Regions from separate parts of the Homo sapiens genome. Here region 1 is linked to region 2. The links come from fine-mapping of genetic effects on gene expression. A gene starts in region 2. The other region holds a variant in brackets. All regions are shown on one strand. Distances are between the middles of the regions.

Evidence for each region.
Region 1: its variant is fine-mapped to the expression of DDO in blood mononuclear cells (TOPMed, PIP above 0.99).

Annotation. Positions count from the first base shown.
Region 1 is chr6:110,327,093-110,332,469 of GRCh38, forward strand. All of the region lies in intron 1 of METTL24 (methyltransferase like 24), which reads right to left. Among named protein-coding and RNA genes, the nearest start is that of METTL24, 29 kb to the right of the region's middle. RefSeq lists an enhancer at 3,008-3,508. The variant C/A (reference allele first, on the strand shown) is at 3,090.
Region 2 is chr6:110,412,910-110,418,286 of GRCh38, forward strand. DDO (D-aspartate oxidase) reads right to left here and starts at 2,666. Exons shown (of 5, transcript NM_001372108.2): 1 at 2,558-2,666; 2 at 382-557. The coding sequence starts at 553. LOC105377936 (a long non-coding RNA gene) reads left to right here and starts at 2,735. Exons shown (of 2, transcript XR_942856.2): 1 at 2,735-2,878.

The DNA of each region.
Region 1 (5,377 bases), 86 kb before region 2:
GACAGAGATCTCTACAGGGTACACTGGGGGCACAAAAAGGTACAGCGCCTGAGTATTACTCCAAAATAAATGACTGAAAATACAAAGGCAGAGCATGGGAAGCAGTCTCCACTACTAGAAGCCCAAAAGCACATCAAAGGTCTTTCCAGCATTATTAAAGACATCTTAAACACAGTAGCAGCATTTAACCTGAGCTAACATACAAAAGTAACTTCACAGATCAATAATTTAGAATCCATATGGTAAATCAATATGGTGAAACTATAGAATGATCTTAAGGGTCCACAAATAGTATTCTTCTTGCAACCTAATATTTTTCATTTCCAACTGAGTGTTGACCACAAAGAAGCTAAGCACAGCAGCTGGAACAGTGAATAATGTTAAGTTGAGGAGTCTCAGATGGGGATATAATAGAAACACCGCAAATAGATGCCCTCAGAAGTGCTCTGGCTTAATGCTTTGGTTGAGCTGTTTAAAAAACATTTCACATAAAGCAATGTTCTTATTGGAATCAGTCTGACAGCAGTTTGTGATTATTTCCCCATGGAAACCGCTAGCTTTTATCATCTCTTTCAATTATCATTTGTCTTAATTCTCTAGTGTATACATCAACATTTGTCCTTCCCAAATTCCCACAAAGAGAATTCTCTGAGCACCTTAAAACGTCAATGGCAGGTTAAATAGAAAAGGACAAAAATCATCTTTCCCTTTTTAAAACCTCTTTTTAATCATTGTGATTTTACTCCAAACAATTCCCTAAATGCCAGGGTACATTAAATGCCTATCATCCACGTGTTTCAAATATCAAGTGGCCATAACAACGCCACCCCTATTGCTCCCAGGAGGTGGGAACGTGGATTCCCAATCCTGCCTGCCACCTGTACTTCCTCTTCAGACAGGTAAAGCAGCAGCTTAAGCAGAGGTGGCTGGAAATAACATCATTTTGGATTGGTCTGTTTGTCTGTCCCCAGGAGGCCTGAGCTGAAATGTCAAATGAGGTATTACAATGAGTTGCCACAGAGAAGCAGCTTTGTTCCTGAGCTCCTGCAGGAGTGGGGACCCCCTCTATTTCTAAACCACCAGGGCATTCATACAGAGGGGCCTGCCCCACCTCAGACAAGCATTTCTCAGGGCAGGCGTGGTCCTGATTTCCAATGTAAGGAAGCAGCCTCCTTTCAGTTTTGCAAAGGCCTTATCTGGCACCTTGTCCAGACAATGTGCATTGAAAAGTGAGCAGGCTTCTTCTAATGAGAGGCAAATGTTTTCATTACTAGAGAAAAATTCCAAAAATTCAGATTAAGGACAGCAGAAGATTCCATACGCAACTAGTTCATGTTATTTAGTGGCTATTTTGCAGATATCTGAGATTCTACTTCCCGAAGGGTAAAAAGTGATCACTGAGTCATTCAGTGCATGGAGATAATGGATTTGACTCAAAAAGACTGCAACAAGCACAGCCATGAGGCTTTGGGATATTTTTGTCATTTGTGATCTCAGCATAAAGTTTTGTTTCTTGAAAAAAAGAAAGTGATTCTCTCAAGCCATGAAGCTGAATTCCAAGATTTTACTCCTAAAAGATAATGCCAAAAAAAGGGAATATTTTAAAATACTCCTTTGCCTACCAGCTTACACTCATGTACATAATAGAAATATATTAATTCAAGACCATGTAGCATTTAAAAAATTTACAGGAAAAAAAGCAGGCCCACTCATGACCTAGAAAAGAGAGCTATCGATTCTGTGTTATGCAAAAGCTTTCTTTGTTGTAAAATTTGGAATAACAGCTTCCTCCTTCACAGACCATATCCTCACACCCATGAATGACCTTAGGCAGCCCATGAAGAAATTACCAAAAAATGGTGCCACCATCAGCTTGACAAGCATGTTTCTACATTTTTTGTATAAAATAAACCAAAAGGATGCTTCTAATGCCCCATTCCTCTGTGTTTCAAGGCTACAGTCCTTTGGAGGATGAAATTATATGATGACTAATGTAAATGATCAGTTTCTTTATCACAATAGATAACTGATAGAGTGTTTGGGATATTTTTTATAAAGTCTCAATACTCCCAAATGCATGTTCCCACCCCAGTGAGCTCCTGAAGGGTTTTAAAACCAGCAGTTTTCTGCTGGGAAAGATGGCTAACCATCAATTCTGTGCATCACAGTTGTGTGCGTGGAAATGAACAAGGAACTAGGTTGTGAGTCCTCGACTCCAACTCAGCAATAAAGTGAGTGTGTGTTGATGTGTTGACGATGGAGAAGCCTAAGCTTTCTGGGAGAAACAAATCCAAAACAAGTAAAATAGATTTATTTAGCAATTTTGCTGCAATTTTGTGCTAATTAAGAGCATCTGTTAGTGGGCAGGAAACAATGACTGAAGGAAACTGTTTATTCCTTTTTAGAGGGGGTGGGGGTGGGAGTAGTTGGGGGAGGGAGAGGCACAAAATGGTATCTGGACAGAACATGACTCTAGCCCTGGCTGAGGCTGTGAGCACTGCCGTTACGTTTCTGTAACGCCCTCAGTGTGTGCCCAGCGCTTCTGAAGGCTGCGAGGGGAGTGCCGGGTGCAGTTTCACGTGCCTTCCCCTCAGCCTTCTCCTGTAATTGGCCTGTTTCTCAGACCCGGCCCTGCTTCAGAAAGAGCAAGAATCAGTTATACATTGTGCAGTGATGTTTAAAATTCAGGTAACCCATGCAAAAATTTCATTTAAAAACAAAGGATCTCAGTTTCCGTTCTGGGTAAGCACACTCCCACCCCGCGCCTCCCACGGAATGCAGCAGTAAAACCTGGACAGAATGCACAGAGCGGTTATTTGAGGAATCTGAAAAGTAAACAGTAGCAGGCAGATTGGAGAAGAAGACCAGAATTCAAAGTACCTCGAAACTAGAAGCCAGGTCACCATTGCTTTTCCTTCTGGTGTCCTGCCCGCCCTACTCTAGGCTGCCTGGCACCGGTGGTGGGCACTGGCGCAGCCAGGAAGCACCAGGAGCAGCCCCGCAGTTCAGGCTCCAGGAGGCGGGGCGTCTCCCGATGCTCAGGGATAGTAGAGGAAATCCTCACTTTTCCTCCTTTTTTTTCCTTTCTC[C/A]GTTCTTGCAAGTAATCCCACTAAGATGGTAGAAGCCACAGTGGGGGCCTGAAGGCACCTAGAACTCTGCGAAAACGGAAGTTTCCTCTCCTCTCTGAGGCAGTGGACCCCAGAGAGTGGGGTGAATCCTCATTGACTATGTCTGTCTCTCTCTTCCCGCAGCTTGGCCTTGGACTCAGGCACAGTCACAGGAAGTGTGAAGCAGAGCGTAGGCAAAGCAGGGGTAAAAGCCCAAACTTTCTGGTCATAGATTCAAAAACCGTAGGGAACTGGATAATACTGGGGAAACTGGGGAGAAGGAGTAGCTTGGGAAGGCAGCCCCATTAACGGATTTGTAAAGCACCTGGGCTCACTCTAGAACTGTGCATGTGTGGATCTGATCCTGCCTGGCACAGCAAAGACTGAGAACTGAGCTAATAGATGGACCTCTGGAGCTAACAGACAGACAGACCTCTGCCCAAGCCCCAGACTGGCCTGGGCATACATGGGATACACATGGGACAGAGGTGAAACCCCTACCAAGCCTTTGAAAACAGAGCTGACATGGAAATTACAACCCACAGGAGGCTGGTGGGAACTTGAGGCCTGGACCCAACCAGGATAACTGCCTGTTAAAACAAATATATCGACATTATCCACAGTATTTAAACAAAACTCGGCCTTATAATATTCAAATTTTCAGGATACAGTCCCAAACTACTAAGCATATGAAGAATCAGGAAAATCCCAACTTATGTGGGAAAAAGACAATCAGCAGATGCCAATGTAGGCCTGATACAGATGTTGAAATTTTTGGCAAAGACTTAAGAGCAACATTTACAAAATAATCCATGAAGTAAAGGTGGACATGCTTGAAACCAAGGGCAAGATAGAAAGTCTCAGCAAAGAAATAGGAAGCATAGGGAGCCAAATGGAAATTCCAGAACAGAAAATACAATAACTGAAATAAAATCTCAGGGGATGAATTCAATAGCAGAAAGAATTTGACACAAGAAAGAGCCAGTGAACTTGAAGACAGATCAATAGAAAGTATCCAATGTGAAAAACAGAGAGAAAAATTATTGTGGGCAGGGGGGAAAGAGCCTTGGGGACCTGTGCAGCAATACCAAGTGGTCTAGCATTCATGTCACTGATATTCCAGAGGAGGGGAAGAAAGAATGCAGTGCAGGAAAAAAAAAAATTAAAGAAATAATGAGGCCAGGCACGATGGCACACACCTGCAGTCCCAGCCCTTTGGGAGGCTGAGGCGGGCAGATCACTTCAGCTCAGGAGTTCAAGGCCAGCCTGGGCAACATGGCGAGACCCTGTCTCTACAAAAATATAAAAATTAGCTAGGCATGGTAGTAAATCCCAGCTGTAATCCCAGCTACTCTGGTGGCTGAGGTGAGAGGATTGCTTGAGACTGGGAGGTCAAGGCTGCAGTGAGTCATGCTGTGCCACTGCACTCCAGCCTGTCTGACAAAGTGAGACCCTGCCTCAAAAAAAAAAAAAAAAAAAAAGGAAGAAAGAATGACTGAAAGACCCCCCAAATATGATGGAAAATATAGCCTAAAGATTCAAGAAGCTTTGCAAACCCCTCAGAGGAAAACTCGAAGAATTCCACACCTTTATGTGTCATAAGCAAAGTGCTGGATATTAAAGACAACAACAATAAAAAACTGAGCCTCTGCTAATCTTGTGACAGACCCAGTAGTGGGCCAGGGTCAAAACAACAAGGTGAGAACGGGCAGAGCCAGCCCGTCCCATAGGAGCCTCTTCCCCTCAGGCCCCCTCCCTGTCAAGACCCAGCTCTCTCTCTCTGCAAGCCCATCTGCTAAATGTCTCTGGCAGCAGACAGCAGGCATGCTGAAATTCAAATCCAGAGCGCCAATCTGCCGCCTCTGCAGCATGACACAGAGGGTAGGCTGGGAGGCAGGGGAGCCAGAAATCAAATCAGCTCTGACAAGAAAAAATGCATTATAATTCAAGCAGGTCCTGATAACTTTTAGGAAGGAATAAAAAATATAAGACAAGAAGGAATAAACACTCAACTCTGGATTTATCCTCTAAGTTATTTTGATAAGTTGGAAAGAGTGGCTAAACAAATTTGAGTTGGAGTTTGTTCTTAAATTGACATCTTTAAATTCACCACATTTTCTGTGTAGGTCAAAATGGTTCAAATGTGAGCAAGACTGAAACACACCAGGGGATGGCTAAGAGAATAAAACGTAATATATTTTAGATTTTTATCATGGGCAGTAAAAACAGAAGCCATATACCTAGAGTGGATCCAGTGAAAGCCGAGATTT
Region 2 (5,377 bases):
AAGGGGGATGAATCGCTTGAGGTCAGGAGTTGAAGACCAGCCTGGGCAACAAGACAAGACCTTGTCTCTACAAAAATACAAAAACTAGCCAGGCATGATGGTGTGCACCTGTAGTCCCAGGTACACGAAAGGCTGAGATGGGAGGATCACTTGAGCCTGGGAGGTTGAGGCTGCAGTGAGCCAAGATTGCACCACTCCACTTTAGCCTGGGTGACAGAGTGAGACCCTGTCTCAAAAAAAGAGAAAAAGAGGAAAGGAAAAAGAAAAAAACCTGCATATTACACTTACACCTATAGCCAGCTGTCTTTTGTCAATAGAATTCCACTAACATCATTCTATCTGACATCTATTGTATCTGATAGAGGAGCTGAAATCTCTCACCTGGATAAGTGTGAGGAATAAGCATTCCGGCTGCCACATCACTGGTGGTATCTGGAGTAAACTTGTCTGAAATGATGGTAACGGAGCATCGGGGCACCAGTTTGGAGATGCACACAGCCGTGGAGAGCCCCACCACACCTGCCCCGACAACTGCAATCCGTGCTGTGTCCATGAGCCTGTGAGGAGGGAAATGGGAGCTATACCCCTTGTTTTAAGGATTTTCCCATCCAGACAAAGTTTGGTCTTGACAGTTTTTTCCTTAGGTCTTCAGCCACTCAGAATAAGACTTAGCCTATTGGTGTTTCTTGTGAGATAAAGAGGATAACCCCATAAGCTCACTTTCCATTAAATATTGGTGTATAAGCAACAAGATCTCCATGGGCTTTTAGAGAGTAACACAAAACTGGCTTGGATTTGCCTTTAGAACACCTAGCCAGTAAGTAGGTCTGCATTTGGAGGAGTTTTCTACTCATTCTTCACCCTTCCCTTTTTTTTCCCCCTGAAAGGGGGTCTTGCTCTGTTGCCCAGCCTGGAGTACAGCGACGAGATCTCGGCTCACTGCAACCTCCGCCTCCCAGGTTCAAGCAATTCTCCTGCCTTAGCCTCCTGAGTAACTGGGATTACAGGTGCCCACCACCACGCCAGGTTAATTTTTGTATTTTTAGTAGAGATAGGGTTTCAGCATGTTGGCTAGGCTGGTCTCGAACTCCTGACCTTGTGATCCGCCGGCCCCAGCCTCCCAAAGTGCTGGGATTACAGGCGTGAGCCACCATGCCCGGCTTCATCCCCCTTTCCTAAACCATTTTCCCTATGGGCACAACCTAGGGAAGGTTGACAGAAAACCACAGAGCTGTAGTCTTTGCTCCCAGAACTACCTGAGGAGCAGTGGTGAGGGGCATGACCCATGAGCAACTCAAAACTCAACTCTGTCTACAAAGTTGTTTCTAATAATAAGGACATTACAGAAAGTTTCAGCAGCTGAACTCAGTCTCCTCTGCCATCTGCCACTGTCACCGGCCCCCTGTCTGTCCTGGACAGGTTCTGTAACCTGAGGAGCAGTCCGTGGTCTCCTAGCCTCCACTCCCTCATCTGTAACACAGAACAGATGGATTACTTGCTCCTTTGGGTGGTAAATAAGAGAGACCCAGTGAGGCGGTCTCATAAAGGGGGCTCCTTGGGAGAGTCTGAATGGAAATGCAGGGGACAGACATCCCGGAGCCCGGGCCAGGTGTCCTGAGGCTGGCACCCTCTGTCCCACCCCTCACCCACGGAGCCTTGCTCCACTGTCAGCATCCCCGCCTGCCTTTGCTTCCCTGTTTTTGGCTTTCCCCATCTGTTCCTGCTCTGACTCTTTCTGTATGGCTCAGGTTTAAACTCCAGAGAGAGAAAATGCAGTTGTACCAGTTGGTCATTGCATCCCCTGTTGGACAAAATTCTAGCACCAGGCCAACTTGCTGGGCTAAACCAGCCTCTGAATGTGCCCTTGGCATAGTTGCCCTTCTCTGTCCAAAGCACAGTAATCAGGGTACTGGGCCACATGGTACAAACCATGGCCACCCACACACAGAGGTTCACCTTTCCTCTGGAAGGCTGGGCAGCTTCCTCAGCAAGGGCTGTTGGCAGGAAAAACGTGGGCTTGGTTGTTAGTGGCCTCTGCTTTCTCTTCCAGTTCTGAAGATTCTCGCACTATGAGACTTTAAAGCCCTCCAATGAAGTTTAGTGTGATATTCCTATTCCTCGAGCAGTCTATGCATTTCTGTGCTAATTTGATACGTTAATTTGATTGCTGTACAGTGGGCTGGTCAGCTGAGAGAGAGTGGGCCTGCCAGGGCTGAGGGAAGAGAAGGGAACGGGCCCAGGCCAGAGCAGTCTGGTGGGGGCCAGCTTGAGTAGAGCTGTCCTGCAGCCACCAGTGACCTTATTGACTTCGCTGTTTCACATCAGCCTCCCATGTCCAGCAACTCTCTCAAAACAGCTCTAATAAACTAAGTTGAAAGGGCAAGCAATCTGTGGCTAAGAATAACCAGCTGCCAGGGAGGAGGAGTGAGCGAGCAATGTGGTGTGTCCTGGCACAGTGGCCTGTCCATCACTGTCCCCTGACCCTATTCAGACACACTCCCAAACTCCCAGAGCATGGACGGAACGACCCCTCAGCTGAAAGCAAGAATTCAAGTACCTGTCTCTGAAAAAGCAGTCTTGGAAGCCACCAAAATCTCTGGCACCAAACCTTGTTTCCCAGTGCCTGGCTGGTCTCATGCCCTGAGAGACAGAGAGAAAGCGAAACTGATTCCCATTGGTGACTTGATTCAGGACATTCCCCCTGGTCTTCCTTTCCATTGGCCTGCATGGCTGTCTCTGTCACCCATTGCCCCGGAGAAAGGAGCAAGTGACCTCAACCTGTCATCTCCATGGCGCTGTCTCTGCCAAGCCCTTCCCTTTCTGGCCCACGAGCCCTCTGTCTGGCCGCCAGCCTGGGCTTTCTCCAGCTGATTTGTAGGTATGGTGAATAATGGGTGAGCCTGTCCAACTTCCAACCTCGTTTGGCTGCCCACAGTTAGCCGGGTGCCTGGCTCTGCTGGGTCAGCTGGTGGGGGAAGCAGGAAGGAGGGGGTGAGGGCTGAGTAATGTTGTTGATTGATTGGAGCTGGAAACACTATTCAGGAGATAATCTAGGATAGAACCACATGATTCTTTAGCCCAGCAGTCCCCAGCCTTTTAGGCACCAGGGGCTGGTTTCATGGAAGACAATTTTTCCACAGACTGGGGATGGGGAGATGGTTTCAGGATGATTCAAGTGTGTTACATTTACTGTGCACTTTATTTTTATTATTATTCGTTGTAATATATAATGAAATAATTATACAACTCAACATAATGTAGAATTAGTGGGAGCCCTGAGCTTGTTTTCCTGCAATTAGATGGTTTTCTCTGAAAGTAATGGGAGGCAGTGACAGATCATCAGGCATTAGATTCTCATAAAGAGCACACAAACTGGATCCCTTGTGTGCGCAGTTTACAGTAGGTTTGTGCTCCTATAAGAATCTAGTGCCTCAGCTGATCTGACAAGAGGCAGAGCTCAGGCAGTAATGCAAATGATAGGGAGTGGGTATAAATGAAGACAAAGCTTTGCTTGCTCACCCACGGCTCACCTCCTGCTGTGAGGCCAGTTCCTAACAGGCCACGGACTGGTAGTGGTCTGTGGCCTGGGGATTTGGGATCCCTGATTTAGCCCACATATTCAAAGAAGGGATTCAATATTTGATGAGTGTCTACTGAGCTCTAGGCATGAGGCACAGTTAACAAGTTTGTTTCCAGGGAGGCAGTGTGATGTGTCAAATTAGTGACAATAATATTTTCAATAATGTATATGTAGCATTAACCATGTGCTAGACACATGTATGACATCATATATCACAACCACCCTATGAAGTAGGTACTATTATCACTATCCCCATTTTGTATATGAGTACATTGAGGCTCCAAGACAGTAAGGAAGGGTCCAGGGTCTCTTAAATGGTAAAATCCAGTCTGGATATCTGACGTCAAGGCTCAAGCTCTTTTTTTTTTTTTTTTTTTTTTTTGAGATGGAGTCTCGCTCTGTCACCCAGGCGGGAGTGCAGTGGCTCTATCTCAGCTAACTGCAAGCTCTGCTTCCTGGTTTCATGCCATTCTCCTGCCTCAGCTTCTCTAGTAGCTGGGACTACAGGCGCCCGCCACCACACCTGGCTAATTTTTTGTATTTTTAGCAGAGACGGGGTTTCAACATGTTAGCCAGGATGGTCTCGATCTCCTGACCTTGTGATCTGCCCGCCTCGGCTTCCCAAAGTGCTGGGATTACAGGCTTGAGCCACTGTGCCCAGCCAAAGCTCAAGCCCTTAACCAAAACACAAACTTTGGTTTCAAGAGACCTGCATTTTTACCTTGAGCAAATCACCTGACTTCTGAGTTGGATTGCCCATCTGAAAACTGAGAATGAACTAAGAATCCCTTGCAAGTTGTTGTAGGTCTCTGATAAGTTGAGATATGTACAATTCTTTGTAAGGTGGTCTGAGGGCCGGTGAGGGGGTGGTGGGGAAAAGCAACTTTTTCTCTGGCTATGCTCAATACTGTCACAGTCACTGAATACAGAACACTTTCTGTGACCAGGTGTGTGGGGGTTGTCTCCCTACACACCAAGCATCCCATTCTGCAGATTCCCTAGCAGACACTTCAGCTGCATGTCCTCTAATTCAATTCAATTCTGACACCAGCTACCTGGAGATAGTGTCAGATCCCACAGGTTAAGGGCTCAGTCCCACAAGACTTACCCTACTTTGGATGCCAATCACAAGCCCCAGGTTGTGGGTTTCTGACTGGTGGGCTATAAATCGGGGTCCCTACAAGCCCCTTTTCAGGTTCAATTAATAATGGTTCAATTTGCTAGAGTGGCTCCAGAACTCAAAAGAACACTTTGCTTACCTTTACCCATTTATTAATATGGATATTACAAAGGATGCAGATGAAGAGCCATGTGGAAGAGAGGGCCAGGGCTAGGCATATGGGAACGGGCAAGGAGCTCCCGTGCCCTCTCTGGGGGCACAACGTCCAGGAACCTCCACATATTCAGCCATCTGGAAGCTCCCTAAACACAGTCTTGTGTTTTTCCTTTTTTTTTTTTAATGAAAGCTTTATTATGTAGACATGATGGTTAAAACATTGGCCACTAGTGACCAACTTAACCTTCAACCCCTTCTCCCTAGAGGTTGGGGATAGGGCTGAAAGTCCCCACTCTCTAATCATGTCTTGTCATTTCCAGATGACCAGCTCCCATCCTGAAGCTTACTACAGGGCTCCAGCCACCAGATATCTCATTAGCATACAAAAGACACTCTTATCACTCTGAGGATTCCAAGGGTTTTAGGAGCTATATGTCAGGAAATGGGAATGAAGACCAAATACATAGTTCCCAGTATCACAGGTGGTATACATATTTTATTGAGCACCTACTATAAAAATC